Homo sapiens: one gene and its partner. The protein of the gene in region 1 interacts with the protein of each later gene in a pairwise test. Each region holds a gene or a part of one and is shown on either strand. Other genes may lie near its edges.

The links.
Region 2: the proteins of ZNF69 (region 1) and KATNAL1 interact in binary tests that used the Homo sapiens proteins (3 or more experiments, as listed by UniProt).

What each region holds. Positions count from the first base shown.
Region 1 is NC_000019.10:11,883,036-11,890,781, forward strand, and holds the start of ZNF69 (zinc finger protein 69), read left to right. Parts: upstream 1-4,746; 5' UTR 4,747-4,888; coding exon 4,889-4,951; exon of another isoform or gene 4,952-5,524; intron 5,525-7,746.
Region 2 is NC_000013.11:30,304,397-30,312,627, forward strand, and holds the start of KATNAL1 (katanin p60 ATPase-containing subunit A-like 1), read right to left. Parts: upstream 3,156-8,231; 5' UTR 2,935-3,155; intron 2,616-2,934; exon of another isoform or gene 2,544-2,615; intron 2,461-2,543; exon of another isoform or gene 2,283-2,460; intron 1-2,282. UniProt on the Homo sapiens protein: Regulates microtubule dynamics in Sertoli cells, a process that is essential for spermiogenesis and male fertility. Severs microtubules in an ATP-dependent manner, promoting rapid reorganization of cellular microtubule arrays.

The DNA of each region.
Region 1 (7,746 bases):
ATCGTGGCTCATACATTTAGAAAATTTCAGACAATAATAAAGGTCAAAGCCTTGTTCATGAAGAGTTAATAACCCAAGTGTTAAATAACCTTCAGTTACCAGAAAAAAAAAAAAAGCTATTTTCCACGTCCCCAGGCACCAAAAATCCTATCTTTCAAGAGTTAAGAAAATAACCTAGCAAATCAGATAATCCGAACCAGCTGCCGTTTCTCCTGTAGGCACTGAAGGGAATTCAAATGTTATTTAAACCTCTTATGAAAGAAGTCCTATCCCACCTAAATTAGAGGACCCATTAAAGACCTCAAGCTATGTATAGCACAGTTAAAGTTTATATGTGTATGAAAATGTACATCCTTAGCCAAACAAGTCTAGAAACTTAGTTGCCATAACTCAAATGTCTTCTGTCTTCCTATTAATCCAAACTACCTCTCAAAGCAATCCACTGCCAACATTCCTACATACTTGGTTTATCTTCCACTTTCTCTTCCCTCAAAACTCACAATTTTCCAGTACAGGTGCGGCTCCTGGAGTTCCCAGTGCGTCAACACCGGCCTGAGGAGCTGGCCTAGTACTTCCCACCATTGAAACTGCAGTCTGGACAGCAGAGAAAGGATAGACCCATCACACCCGAGTCAAGAAAGCACCGCCACCCCCAAAGTCGTAGGCCATTATTCCAGGGGAAAACCCCCTCAAACTAAAGCTAAGAAAAATTTAACCTCTTACATCTATTCTATTACTCTTTCTTCTTTTCCCCTTCCAATGCTGACCACCTTGTCATTAATGTAACTCAATCAAACTCACCCCAAGTTATCACGTTTAATGCTATGTCTAGTCATACCCTGTAAAGATCTCCAAAGTCAAAGACAAGTCTCAGCCTCAGAAAAGTATCTCTGCCCCTTTAAGGTGAAAGGCCCCCCCTACCAAGACTCTTGTTCCTTAACAAATATAAGAAAACAAGTCTGTCATAGCTAGAATGATGTCCTATGGACAACCAAATGTCAAGGCTAGACCTCATCAGCAGGTGGCTGTATATCCTTAAAACCATACATTCATTTCACTAAAAAAAGCACCTCCCCAATTGCCAGTATAATCAATGTAATCCCATACAAATTTCCACCTCTACTGACCCTAAACCTACTTTAAGTCACTTCTATGGAACAGGAGCCAACTTGGCCAGCACAGACCTCATAAGATCTTTCGAAATGCGTTTTATTAATCCTTCATTCTCTTCACCCCCTTCCTTCTCTTCTCCTTCTAAGCTTTCTTCTAATCAGACTGCCACCTGTTTTCTACCTAATGATACTACTAAAGTAAATATTGTAGAAGTAAAAGATTTAAGACAAACCCTAGCAATTAAAACAGGATATCAAGATGTAAATACCTGGTTGGAATGGATTCAATATTCCGTCCGCACATTGAACAAAAGCAATTGTTACGCTTGTATGCATGGCAGACTAGAGGCCCAGACTGTTTCCTTTCCACTAGGATAGCCCTTCAGCCGACCAGGCATAGGCTGTATGGTAGCTCTTTTCCAAAATTCCACAGCCTGGGGCAACAAATCATGCCAAGCTCTCTCTCTGCTATATCCCGAAGTCCAACAACCTGCAGGCCAGCCCCCAAAGGCCATTCAGCTTCCTTCTCCTGACGTCAATTTCACCTCATGTCTCTCACGACGAGGGGAGAATCTGGCGTTCCTTAGAAGCTTAACAAGATGCAATAAGCTTAAGCCCTTCCAAAAACTTACCCATCAGTCTGCCCTTAGTCATCCTCAAGCAGATGTATGGTGGTATTGTAGTGGACCTTTACTGGATACTCTGCCAAGTAACTGGAGCGGCACTTGCGCTCTTGTCCAATTGGCGATCCCTTTCACACTGGCATTTCATCAACCAAAAAAAAAGAAAAGCCACAACACCAAAAAATAAGAGAAGCCCCTTATAAGTCTTTTGACTCTCAAGTTTACATAAAGGCCATTAGAGTCCCATGGGGAGTGCCTAACAAGTTCAAAACCTGAGACCAAATAACTGCAAGATTTAAACCCATATTTCCCCGAATAACTATTAATAAAAATGTAGCTTCGATAAATTACATCTATTATAATTAGCAGCAGTTTATGAATTACACCAAGGATCTTATCAAAAAACAGCTGACCAGTTAAGGCCTACTAGCCAAATAGCTTAAGAAAACAGAATCACTTGACTGGGCGCGGTGGCTCATGCCTGTAATCCCAGCACTTTGGGAGGCCAAGGTGGGCGGATCACAAGGTCAGGAGATCGAGACCATCCTGGCTAACATGGTGAAACCCCCGTCTCTACTAAAAAATACAAAAAAAGTATCCGGGCGTAGTGGCGGGCACCTGTAGTCCCAGCTACTGGGGAGGCTGAGGCAGGAGAATGGCGTGAACCCGGGAGGCAGAGCTTGCAGTGAGACAATATGGTGCCACTGCACTCCAGCCTGGGCCACGAAGTGAGACTCCATCTCAAAAAATAAAAACCAGAATGGCTCCAGACATGTTATTAGCCAAAAAAGGTGGAGTTTGTGTTATGATTAAAACCCAGTGTTGTACCTTCATTCCAAACAACACTGCCCCCAGTGAGAGCATAACAAAGGCCTTGCAAAGACTTACCGCTTTATCCAATGAATTAGCTAAAATTTCTGGAGTCAATGACCCTATTTCAAGATGGCTAGGAAAGTAGTTCAGTCAATAAAGAATCATAGCCTCAATACTTATTTCTTTTACAGTCGTAACAGGTGTACTTATTCTTGTTAGGCGTTGTGTCATACCATGCATCCGTAGGCTAATACAAAGGATTGTACGAACAGCATTTACTGAAACCTCCCTTAGTTCTCCTCCACCTTATTCAAGTAAGCTTTTCCTTTTAAAAGATCAAATCAAACAGCAAAGCCAAAACACGTTAAAAAAGTTTAAAGAGAAAAAATCATAAGAAAATTAAAAGGGAGGAATTGTAACATACAGTAAATTTCTCTGAGTTTCTTTTTTTTTTTTTTTTTGAGACGGAGTCTCACTCTGTCACCCAGGCTGGAGTGCAGTGGCGTGATCTCGGCTCACTGCAAGCTCTGCCTCCTGGGTTCATGCCATTCTCCTGCCTCAGCCTCCCGAGTAGCTGGGACTACAGGCGCCCACCACCACGACTGGCTAATTTTTCGTATTTTTTAGTAGAGACGGGGTTTCACCATGTTAGCCAGGATGGTCTCGATCTCCTGACCTCGTGATCTACCCGCCTCAGCCTCCCAAAGTGCTGCGATTACAGGCGTGAGCCACCGCGCCTGGCCTCTCTGAGTTTCTCTTCAAAGACTTAGCCTGCTAACTTCCTTGTCTTTTGTTCTCCAGCTCAACTTTCCTGTTCCTCCTTGCCCCTAGTTACTGTAAAACAGCCTACCCCCTTCCCGTCAGCTCTAATCAATAACTCACATCTGTTCCCTTGGTTACCTGTACCCATTGTTCCCCCGAAACTGCACGTCTCACACGCTCCATCTCTGTACCTCACGTTCCCCTCTCCTTCTATATTTAGAAAAATACGTACAAGTAGCCAGTCGGGTCAGCTCAGATTGTGTGGTCGAACCCCAGCCCATGAAGGAGTGACACAGAGATAGGGACCGCATTAAGGATAAAAAAACCCCCGGTGACCTTTGTTCTCTGTGCTCTTGTGATCTTGATTGACACAAGTGGCACACTTCTGCAGAAGTAAATTGCCTTGCTAAACAAATGAAACTTTCCCCTAAGTGCTAGTTTTACTTCGTGGGACCAAGAATTTATTCCTAAAGCATTTTATATCCGACAGAGATATTCATATATATAAAGAAAATGTGGGCCAGGCGCGGTGGCTCACGCCTGTAATCCCAGCACTTTGGGTGGCCGAGGCGGGTGGATCACTTGAGGTCAGGAGTTCAAGACCAGTCTGGTCAACATGGTGAAACCTTGTCTCTACTAAAAATACAAAAAATTAGCCAGGCGCGGTGGCATGTGCCTGTAATCCTAGCTGCTGGGGAGGCTGAGGCAGGAGAATCACTTGAACCCAGGAGGCGGAGGTTGCAGTGAGTGGAGATTGCACCACTGCACTCCAGCCTGGGGGGACAGAGCGAGGCTCTGTCTCAAAAAAAAAAGAAAAGAAAATGTGTGAAGATCAGGCTAGAGACAGAAATGTTTGGGAGCGTCACCTGGATAAAGGGTTCATGAAGTTGGCAGTTTATTTAGGTCAAAAGCTTAACTTAACCCCTGGAGAGAGTTTCCTGCTGGTGAAAATGAAGATCTGGAAGGAGGAAGCATTTTCACACTGTGAGGAGGGGATGGGGGTGTGAGAGCAAGTCTTAGCCATGCCTCATCCCCAGTTGCGGCCCGCTCCAAGACATATGCCTCTCCTCCTGGCGCAGTCGTGTCTGGCCTGGTCTCGGTTCCCCTGCTGCTCTGAGGCAGGAGATGGCTCCTGTGGACACTGAATCTGAAATTCCCTGCACACTCCTGTGACCCCATGCAGAACGAAGGAGCAGGGACAGTCCCTTGAGTGAGGAAGACGCTAGTGTTCTCCTCTATCAATAGCAAGTTTGGCTGAAATGCAAATATCCAATAACCAGAGTGCAGGAAGGAGCTCGCCCTTGGAAAAGCTGTGGTCAGAATCCGTCTGTCTGGCTCTGCAGGGCCCGATACCCAGGGCTTCCGCTGTCACTCAGACATGGGGGGCGGGGCCTAGCATTCCATCCAATCAGAGGCATTGTGGCGGGTCCCTGCCCACTGTTCCTCCAGACACTGAGGGGGTCGCATTCCTTACCTCACCTTTGTCCCTGCGCGGGCTGCGGCTGGGATCCGGTCTTTCCAGCCCCGAGAGGGACCTGGTTCCTCTGCCCAGGCTTCTGTCACTCTGTCACCTACGCTATGCCCTGCTGTAGTCACAGGAGGTGTAGAGAGGACCCCGGGACATCTGAAAGCCAGGAAATGGTGCGTGTCTGGGGCCGGGTGTCGTGAGACGGGGGAGGGGCTGCCTGGACCGACCGGAACCGACTGTGGCGAGACCCTGGCTTTCCTGCGGGCGACTTTGGGATCTGGGACCGAGTCCTCCTGGAGCCGCTCGGCCCTCGGTCCCCTCGACTGCTCGGTGTGGCTGGGCCGGTAGCCGGGACACCAGGCGTCCTGTCTCGTCTCTGCGCGGCGACTGCGGTTCCAGAGCCCTCTATGGGCAGCTCCGCGCCCGCAGCCACGCGTCTACCCAGATTGTGCGGGGGCCACGGGAGGGTCATGTGGGTGATCCCGACTCGGGTGTGGGGTTCGTGCTTGGGAGGAGCAGCGGTCTGTGGGGCCCCCAGTGTCCACTTTTTCTCCTGTTAAAAATTAAACTGAGGAACGTTAACAAAGAGTTCATTTGAGCAAACAGCGATTCACGAATGAGACACACCCAGTCCTGGCTTGTGGTTTGTCAACGGAAAAAGCCAAACTATGTAAAATAAAGAAGTTTATTCGGAGCCGAATAGGAGAGACCTTGGCCGAGGGAAAAACAACCCCAAGAAGCCTGGAGTAAGTGGTCCCGAGGCGGCTCAAGACAGTTTGGTTTTATTCATTTTAGAGAGACAGGAATTGCAGGGAAAATCATGAATTAGTGCCTGGAAGGTGTAATTTCCTTAGGCAGAAAGGGAGGGACCTGGCCGGGCACGGTGGCTCACGCTTGTAATTCCAGCACTTTGGGAGGCCAAGGCGGGCGGATCACCTGAGGTCAGGAGTTCAAGACCAGCCTGGCCAACATGGTGAAACCCCGTCTCTACTAAAAATATAAAAAAGAAACTAGCCGGGCGTGATGGTGGACGCCTGTAATCCCAGCTACTCGGGAGGCTGAGACAAGAGAATTACTTGAATCCAGGAGACAGGTTGCAGTGAGCCCACACAGTGCCACTGCACTCCAGCCTCAGCACAGAGTGCGACTCTGTCTCAAAACAAAAACAAAAACAAAAAACAGAAAGGGCGGGACCTGTGGAAGGGGGGTTAGAAGGCACAGGTGGTTGAGGGATTCTGTAGGTGGCAGCTGGTTGAGAGTGTGAAGCTTTGTCTAAAGTTTGGAGGAGGTAGGAAGGAATGCTGAAGGAAGGGGGTCTGTTATCTGCCACTTGATTCCATCCCAGCCAAAAAACAGACCTGTTTCTCTAGATTTTATGAATTCTAAGGTGTGACTTACCCTTGTCTTGCGTGGCCTTAGGTCTTGTTTGTAATTTGGTATCTTCTTGCCACAAGGAGTCTGTTTTTCCAGTCAGATAATGTCTGTTTTTACATGAATGTGCGTCAGTTGCTGCATGTAAACTCCTAAAGGGAGAGGGTATAAGGAGGCCTGTCTCACCTCCCATCCTGTCATACAGAGGCACTCAATTTTCAGGGTTTTTTGGGGGTTCCCTTGGCCAAGAGCCGGTCACTTCACTTACCTGGGAAGGTACTTTGTTTTTGTTTTTATTTAAAACAGAGTCTCCTTCTGTCACTCAGGCTGGAGTGCAATGGCTCAATCTCGGCTCACTGCAACCTCCACCTTCCGGATTCAAGCAATTCTCTAGCCTCAGCCTCCTGAGTAGCTGGGATTACAGGCACGCACCTGAAGGGGGCCTGCCCCTCCACCCCTGTGGGTGTTTCTTGTCAGGTAGAGACAAGAGACTGAGTAAAGAAATAAGACACAGAGACGAAGTATAGGGAAAGAACAGTGGGCCCAGGGGACCGGCGCTCAACATGCGAGGACCTGCACCGGCGCTGGTCTCTGAGTTCCCTCAGTATTTATTGATCACTATTTTTACTATCTTGGCGAGGGGAGTGTGGCAGGACAACAGGGTGATGGTGGGGAGAAGGTCAGCAGGGAATCATGTGAGCAAAGGAACCTGTATCATGAATAAGTTCAAGGAAAGATACTGTGCCTGGATGTGCAGGTAGGCCAGATTTATGTTTCACTTTATGCAAATATCTCAGTGTAGCAAAGAGTAACAGAGCAGTATTGCTGCCAGCATATCTTGCCTCCCACAGGGCGGTTTTCTCCTATTTCAGAATAGAATGAATGGTCGGCTTTACACAGAGACATTCCATTCCCCGGAACGAGCAGGAGACAGAAGCCTTCCTCTTATCTCAACTGCAAAGAGGCCTCCCTCTTTCACTATTCCTCCTCAGCACAGACCCTTTAGGGGTGTCAGGCTGGGGGATGGTAAGGTCTTTCCTTTCCCACGAGGCCGGATCTCAGGCTGTCTCAGTGGGGGAAAACCTTGGACAATACCCAGGCTTTGTTGGGCAGAGGTCCCTGCGGCTTTCCGCAGTGCACTGTGCCCCTGGTTAACCGAGAATGGAGAATGGTGATGACTTTTACCAAGCATACTGCCTACAAACATATTGTTAACAAGGCACATCCTGCACAGCCCTAAATCCATTAAACCTTGATTCAATACAGCACAGGTTTCTGTGAGCACAGGGTTGGGGCTAAAGTTACAGATTAACAGCATCTCAAAGAAGAACAATTTTTGTTAGTACATACCAAAATGGAGTTTCTTATGTCTTCCTTTTCTATGTAGACACAGTAACAATCTGATCTCTCTTTTCCCCACATGCACCACCACGCCTGCCTAATTTTTGTGTTTTTAGTAGAGATGGGGTTTCACCATGTTGGCCAGGCTGTTCTCGAACTCCTGACCTCAAGTTACCTACCTGCCTCGGCCTCCCAAAGTGCTGAGATTCCAGATGTGAGCCACCTCGCCAGGCCAGAAGATAGATTTTTATTTTTA
Region 2 (8,231 bases), on another chromosome or scaffold:
GTAGCTGGGACTATAGGTGTGCGCCACCATGTCTAGCTAATTTTTATATTTTTAGGAGAAACGAGGTTTCACCATCTTGGCCAGGATGGTCTCGATCTCTTGATCTCCTGATCTGCCCGCCTCAGCCTTCCAAAGTGCTGGGATTACAGGCGCGAGCCACTGCGCCCGGCCTACACACATTTCTTAAATGAGAGTTCCATATCCAAACCTCTTCCTTTTTCTTTTCTACTCATTACTCCAATGTGAGCTGGTCCATTCTCCCTTGTAGCTTTAATTACTTATCTATATGCAAACTTCTAACTCCAGCCTGCTCTCTCTGAACTCCAGACTAAAATGCACCTCCACCTGAATATCCCATAGGAACCTCTAACAAATGCTCAAAACTCAACTAATATCTTTATATTTCACCCCAATAAAAACCAGCTCCTCCTCATCTCAATCAACGGATTCACTATTACCTCAGTCATGCTAGCCAGAAACTGAGGAATCAATCAGCTAAGAGTTCCAAATCTAACTCCCAACATCCAAACTCTTATCAAGTCATATCAATTTTATCTCTTAAATATTCCTTGAATCCATGTCTTTCTGTAACTCCAAATGCTTAATTCAGACTCTCTTCACTTCTCTACTGGACTTTGTTTTTTTCTATTATACAACTGGCTTTTCTACTACCTGTAATGTTTCCCCTCCCAGGTCCATTCTCTACACTGGGGCTGGAGTTATCTTTCTAAAATACAAATCTGACGCCACCACCACTCTAGCTAAAATTCTTCAATGACTGCCCTATATCAAGAAAAATTCTAAACTCTGAATATGGTGCCAAGTACTTTAAGATCTGGCCTCACCCACTAATTGCAAGTATTCTGGGATCCAGTCATTCAGAACTACCTAGCGTTTCCCAAATACAAAATACTGATTCTTCAATCTATCCTTTGCTTATTTTGTGCCATCCATTTGTCCTAGAATGACTTTCCTCATCATCACTCCAGTGAAAGCTTATTCAACTATTTTAACACAAGTTAAAAGTCAAATCACACTGAAGGCCTCCCCTGACTTCCTTAGACAGAGTCAGGATCTTTCTACTAAATGACAGAGAATGGTCAGTGCTTGAGATCAGGACCAGACCCACCTGGGCTGAAATCCCAGGTTCACACGTTACCAGCTATGATTTTGAGCAAGGCCTCTAAAGCCTGTTTCCTCATCTCTAAAAATCAGTAACTACTTCACCAACTGTTTTGAGGATTAAGTAAGGAGTTGCATGCAAAATACTCCTCACAGCACCTGACATATTCAATAAATGTTACTGTTATGTGATTATTTCCTCTGGGCTCCTAGAGCAACTTGCACTTATCTCTACCACACTACTGTGATGACAAGACTGCCCATGCAGGATACAGACTATCTTTTTTCATCTCTTTATTCTCACCACCTGGCATAATGCCTGGCACATAGGTTCCTAACACATTTTGAATGAATAAATAAAATACTTCAAACCTTATGTTGTATCACATAAGGCCTCAATTTTGTTTTCTACCTGTCTTACTAAACCTACTTTCCATCTCCTCCTTGTACAAAATTGCAACCTCAAGTAAAATTTACACAGGTCAACTTCATTTTAATTAAGAGAAAGTTTTATAGGATTTGTGGTCTTTTTGTTTTTAAACACACACACACACAAACTCACAATAATATCAACAATTCTCCAACTTACTCCATAAAGCAGCAAATTTCTAGGATGGTTATCTACCTATTAAAAAATTTTAAAGGGTCGTCAAGGAAGGTTTCGTAAATCTGTGTCAGCTTCCTTTACCAGCAAGTCTTTGAGTCAACTCTAAGGACTCAAGTGTACTCCTGAACATAAAAAATATATAAAGAATTAACTAAATAATTAAAACATGGTATTTTTCCTTCCGAAAACATGCTGAGAAATTCTGAATAACACTGGAATAATCAAAGAATTATTGCTGCCTACTGCTAAAAAAGTCTGTTTTTAAAAGTTACTAGTAATTTAAAGCTGAACTAATCAAAATATGTGTAGGCAGTGTTCAGGCTGGCAAGGGGGGGGTGGGGTGGAGCACTCATTTCACAACCTTGAACCTCAAGAAATAAAATTCAAAAATGCAAAAAGTTAAAAATGCCAGATACCACCATATAATCGCAATGACATCTTTTTATCTATTTCCACACTTAACCTTTAAACATTACTGCCCTTTGAGTAATTACCAATTGATGGGTTTAATATGCAAACACCTCTGAGCTACTTTAAAACAAACATGACTAACCCAGAAATAAACGTATCCAGGAAAGGAGAAAAACCTGTTAAAACACGGTTTCTCAGGTCTCACATCCAATGTGTGACATACATACGGTTCTGCACCGAAAGGCAGCAACCTGCGAGGGTCAGAGGCGCCGAAGACCCGAGGCCCTGCAGCTTGGGCGGCTGCTCATCCCTGAGACTGTGCAGGGCGGTGGCCCAGCCGGGGTGGGGCTGAGCGCTGCAACTGGGGCGGGCCCAGCTACAGGGCGGGAAGCCCGAGGCTCACCTCCACTTCCCTTTCCCAACGCACAGAGCCCAGGTCCGCGACCACTCAACAGCCCCCTCAAGACAAAGAGAGATTTTTTTTTCTGTCCCGGTCCGCTCAAAGTTTATCGGTCTTTCCCGGCGGTCGGGGCCGCCGGGCTTTGTAGTTCGCCAGTCCGAGCTACCCCACCAAGACCGCGAGCCCGAGGAGTCGCTGAACTACAATTCCCATGATGCACCGCGAGCCTGGCGCTCCCGCGCCCCTCCCCGTCCCCGCACGGGAGCCAGCGCCCGAGGAACCCCGCAGCCCACTGCCCTGGCGTCTCCGGCAGTGGGAGGCCGAGAGGGGCTGTTGGCTAGAGCCCTCCACCACCTGCTGTCTCGCCCTCGCCCCTTTCTCTCGGATTCATTACCCAGAAGGCGCAGGTCCGGGCACATTCAGCGATGCGGTCCAGATGGGGTGCGGGTGGGGCGCAGGCCGCCGCCGCCGCCGCCGCCGAGTCCGTTAGCTCGCGACGTGCGTGAAAAGGCGGCGGCGGCGTAGTGTTGCCATGGCAGCCGCGGCCGCGCGGTGGGCGCAGCGCGGGAGGGAGCGCGGGGGCTGTGAGTCCGCTCTGGGGCGGAGCTTGGGACTCCCGCCCAGGTTGCCGGGGGGAGGGAGGTGCAGCGGCGCGGGGTGGGAGAGCAGGGAGACAGTGACATTGAGGAGGACGTGTGGCCGACTGAGCTCTGGTCGTGCTTGATGAGCCTGCCTCCACTGCGTCCAGCCCCCGTGGCAGGGCACCTTCGTGCCTGCTGCTTTCGGAGGTGATGCCAGTGGCGTCGAAGGAGGGGGCACCCGGGGCGTCGCAGCGCCTTTCCCGCCGCCTGTCCAGGCGTCCGCCGCTGGGTCTGCCCCCAAGGGATGTGTGGATCCTACGCCACCTCTGTGTTTTTCTCCAGTCAAACCGAATTGAAGTCTTTCGCACCCCCTTTCTCCATTCTCTGGGGAGGGGGATAGAAGGGAATCCTTCGATAAGATGGAATGCATATGGCCTTTAGGATTATTCAGGAGGTTTTAGAATTTGCAAATGGCATTGCTTTCGACTGAATTTGGATTTATGCTGTTTCTTGGCAATCGTTTGTGGACTCTAGGATAAACAGGTTAAGAGCGTGGGCTTCTAAAACGAATTCTTAGTTCACGTCCTGCCCCTGTGCTTGGTAGCTGATGACCAGAGGCGCCTTTCTCACCTCTTAACGTTTTGATCTGCAAAAATGGAGATATCCATCTTGCAACTCTTGTAAGAAATACACGCATTAATACTGATGAAGCTCTATAAAACAAAGCTTAGCATTTAACAATAGCTATTAAATATTAATTATTTAATCAATAGTGATAAAAGTCAGAATAGTGGTTGGCTGTCGGGGAGGAGTTTGAGAGAATTTTTTGTAGTGATGAAAAAATTCTATAGCTAAGAGTTTCGGTTACAGAAGTATATGCACTTGTCAAAACTCTTGGAATGGGACATTTAAGATTTGTACATTTCACTGCATGTAAATTTACCTCAAAAGAGAACATAAAAATGTGTTGTTATTATTATTAGAGCTATAGACTCTAATGGAAACTACAGAGATATTCTAGGCCCAATCTCTAGATTTTATAGATGGGAAAACTGAGGCCCAGAAATTTAATAGAAAAAAAGAGGAAGGGGAGTGAATTCGTGACCTTGTCATTTTCTAGTAATGAATATCTCCTGAAAAATTATGGTTGAAAATAACAAAAATGGCTCCTGTAATCCAGCTGAGTCATCCTACCACAGAGATTTTCTTGAACTTGACTGAGTCCCTTATCCACCTTGTGGTGTTCCCCACGGCCAATGTCCTCTCAAGGATTGCACCGTCACTTCTGGCTCTCAGTTCTTGCTTTTCCTGAACACTTAGACCTCTCCACATATCACCTCTTACAACTCTCCTCTCTCTACTCCTGCTGACACATAATTTCGAAATCAGCCCCTTTTCTTTGGTTGTTTCTATAGCCAACTCTTTAGAAGGTTTGGAGCAGATAAGTGGTTTTAAATTAAGGATGCAAAAAACCTAAAATTAGAAATCCCTGCTCTTAAAAGTCCTTCAGTTCCTCCCATGATATTTTTATCCACCTACCACCTACCCCCATTTTTTCATCATAACCTGTAACCTCCCACTATTGTACCATCTTTCTGGTCCCATCTCTCCCCTCCTCTCCTCTCTTTATACAATACTTTTATTTCCATCTCCTAATCTGTGCCTTCATAGCTACCTGCCATTCCTAAACTGTTTACCAAAGTTTTTTCCTACACAAAGTAACTTCCCAAGAGGAACTCTGGAGCCAGCTATTAAAATAATATTTTTTCACATATGTATCCTCATATTCTATTTGATTCAGTCCACAGTGTAGCTGCTCAATAAATATTAAGCAGCTTACGTACATGACCTGTTGATATAGTTTGGCTGTGTCCCCACCCACCTCTCACTTTATTGTAATAATTCCCACCTGTCAAGGGCAGGGCCAGGTGGGGATAATTGAATCATGGGCGCGGTTTCACCCGTACTGTTCTTATGGTAGTGAATAAGTCTCATGAGATCTGATGGCTTTATAAATGGGAGTTCCCCTACACAAGCTCTTTTGCCTGCCACTGTGTAAGAAGCCCCTTTGCTCTTCCTTCATCTTCCGCCATGATTGTGAGGCCTCCCCAGCCATGTGGAACTGAGTCCATTAAAACTCTTTCCTTTATAAATTACCCTGTCTTGGTTATGTCTTTATTAGCAGCATGAAAACGGACTAATACACCTGTCCTGGCTACCTTCACAGTGGGTTCACTTATGAAACCCATTTTCTTACATCCATAATAATGGTTTACTCTAGTATAAATGAGGAAGCTATGTGATAATAGCTGGAATCTGCTGTCTAAGAGGAAGAAAAGAAACCAAAGTAACCATAGCTTGTACAGAAGAAATGACAGCACTTAAGAGATGAAGTCCGGAACAAAGTCTGGTATGAAGCCATAGGACATCCTTATAGGAACTTGGACCTGTCACCTGCAGCAATTTGGTCACAACTCTGCATATGTAATGAGCATGTAAATAAATTCTCCTTTACTCCTGGAGAAGATGTTACTGATCTGCTACCAGCTGAACACATGTTTGTAGTAGGGATGATAGGTTCACCGGATCCATCTCTCCCTGATCTGGTTTCCCTTGTGACCGATCACTTGTCTTTCTTTGCAAGGCAGCTGGCCAAGGTTGTAGTGCAGCCTACAGCCATGACGAAGTCTCCAAAGACAAGGTCCCAATGCATAACGCTCCTTGTTTTGTGAAGCCAGGATCCCAGAAAATCAGCTCAGCAGGACAGGCCACTTGAGAATGGATGACAGCAGCACAAACAAAAGCTGTCACAAAAGTGAGTTGGAGGTGGGCAGTCGCGGGAGGGAAGACCACAAGCCACTGAAGCACAGCCTTAAAATGCCTCGCATGGCTATGGACAGGTAGGAACGAATAAGGACCGATAGTAAACCATAGTTTATTGTTTTCACCAGATACTTTGGACCTGTTCAAGTGATAGTTAAACACCCTATACAAATCCAAAAGATGGAGCTGAAAGTAGTAGCACATTAATCCACACAGGCAGTGTGGTCAAGAGCCACCACCCTCATTTACAGCGCATCTGGTTTACAGTTGAGGTCTTTCCTCAGTTCTTAGAGTTCTTGGCCTCTCTGGCATTTGACTTTGCTGACTACCCTCCTTGGTGGGTCCTTGACCTTGGATCTCTTCAGAGCTTTCCAACCAGACTTCATTATGTTATTCACCAGCTCTTTTACCTGCTTCTTAAATGTGAGGATAGTTGCCAAGGTTCAGTCACTACACCTTTTCCATTTGCAAGCTTCCGCCTTGGCCGTGGGTGATGCTCCAATTTCTCTTGCTAGTTCTGATCCACAAGTTCCAGCACTGCACAAGCAGGCCCACTCTTCCTTAACTTGTTCTGTTACTTCTGTTCTCTTCGTCTAAGATACCAGCGCCTTACCCTATCTAAGGTCTACGTATTCTGAAAACAAACCTTCACATGAAACCTTTCCAGATCATTCCTGCTCAGTCATATCACCCTGCTCTGTGCTCAGAATATTTCCTGCCAATCTCACTCCCTTGACAGCTGACCATACTGCTGAGTGGCTGCTCAGTATTGTTTACTCATTGGCTTTTTGTCTTTTCTCACTATATTTCAAGCTCCTCCAACGTGTATTTCTGGGTATTCTCAAAAACACCTTCATAATACTCTACATATAATAAGGGCACAATAAATGTTTTTGATTGGTAGTTCTTTTATCTTTTCCCCTTAGCAAAACTTCCTTTATCTGGTAGCTCTCCCTCTTCTAGTACTATGCAGGACATTTGCAGCCTCTTGATATAAATTTCCCTGAAGCCTATAACTGTGGGCCCCCATACATATTCAGTGGAGGAGTACCTTGGGAGGTAATTCCTTAAGTCGCTGTTGCTGTGGAAGGAATTCAGTATGTAAGTAGCACTGAATTCCAACGTTCAGGCCCTCTTACCGTAAAGATCTAGAGCAGAGTTTTCCTCACTGTGGGTCACAGTCTATTAGTAGGTCATGAAGTCAATGTGATGGGTCTCTTCCGGCTTTGTCATATTTAAAAAGTGATAAGGTAAGGTAGTGTAGGGTAAAGTAGAATGCAATAGAATGCGGTAGAAAATGAAATCCAGAGGGTATGTGCATGGTTAGGGTCAAGTATCGTATGGCAGTTACTGAGCTGTCATCTTTCAGCTTCAAACCTACCCTCTGTCCTCTGCTTTGTGTTGGTGGGGCTAGAATTGTGCAAACCACATTTCTCCTCTGTCATCTGGGTGGAGAGGCTGGGGCAGCACAGCAGGACCAGAGGAAGAGCACAAGGCTGGAGGAGAGGGAAGCAACTTGCTCCTTCCTGACAGCCTGCTATGCTTGGCAGCATCACTCCTGCCACAGACTTTTAGCCTGGTGGCAGTTTTACTTGTCTCCAGCTTCTTATTGTATCTCAACCAGCCTCATCGCATCTCTTCTCCCTCCTCCCCAAAGCATTACCTGCAGCAGCAGCCAGACAGTGTCCCTCTTCAGGAGCCTGTGCCCCAGCTTCAACAGGCCTTTCCTACAAACCCCAACCTCCTCTCCTCCCTTTGATCTCCAGCCCTTCAGGCGGGAGCTGCTTCTTGCAGTTATAACCTATGTATTACTCCAGTGTTCCTTTTTTAATTTTTCAGTCCTTGAACATCTGTCTAATCAATTCCCTGTGCTAAATTCTTGCTCTTAAAATACCTACTTAAAGTTTCTTTTTTCCTGACTGAACCCTGACTAATATGGATTGTTAAGTAAGATGTACTTCCTGCCATAAGTGTCCATCAAAAGGGTTTAAGAAACACTGCTTTAGAGGATTGGGAGTTCTTAAATAGCCAGATGACCTGAGATGCAGCTAAGGGGCCAGTCCTAACATGTAGAGGTACTCTGGATTTCAGGTCCATGAAAAGCAAAGATCCTGTTCCACTATAGCAGTTGTCACTGTTGGACCCCAGTCACAGCCTGACCTGTAGGGATCACTAGCGGTGAGCCTGCAGTTGTCCATCAGAGTATGGCCTGAACCCATATGGAATCTGTCCTCTCTCAGATATGCAGAAATTCAGCTTCTTTACTTGTTACAGTTTTACTCGTTAT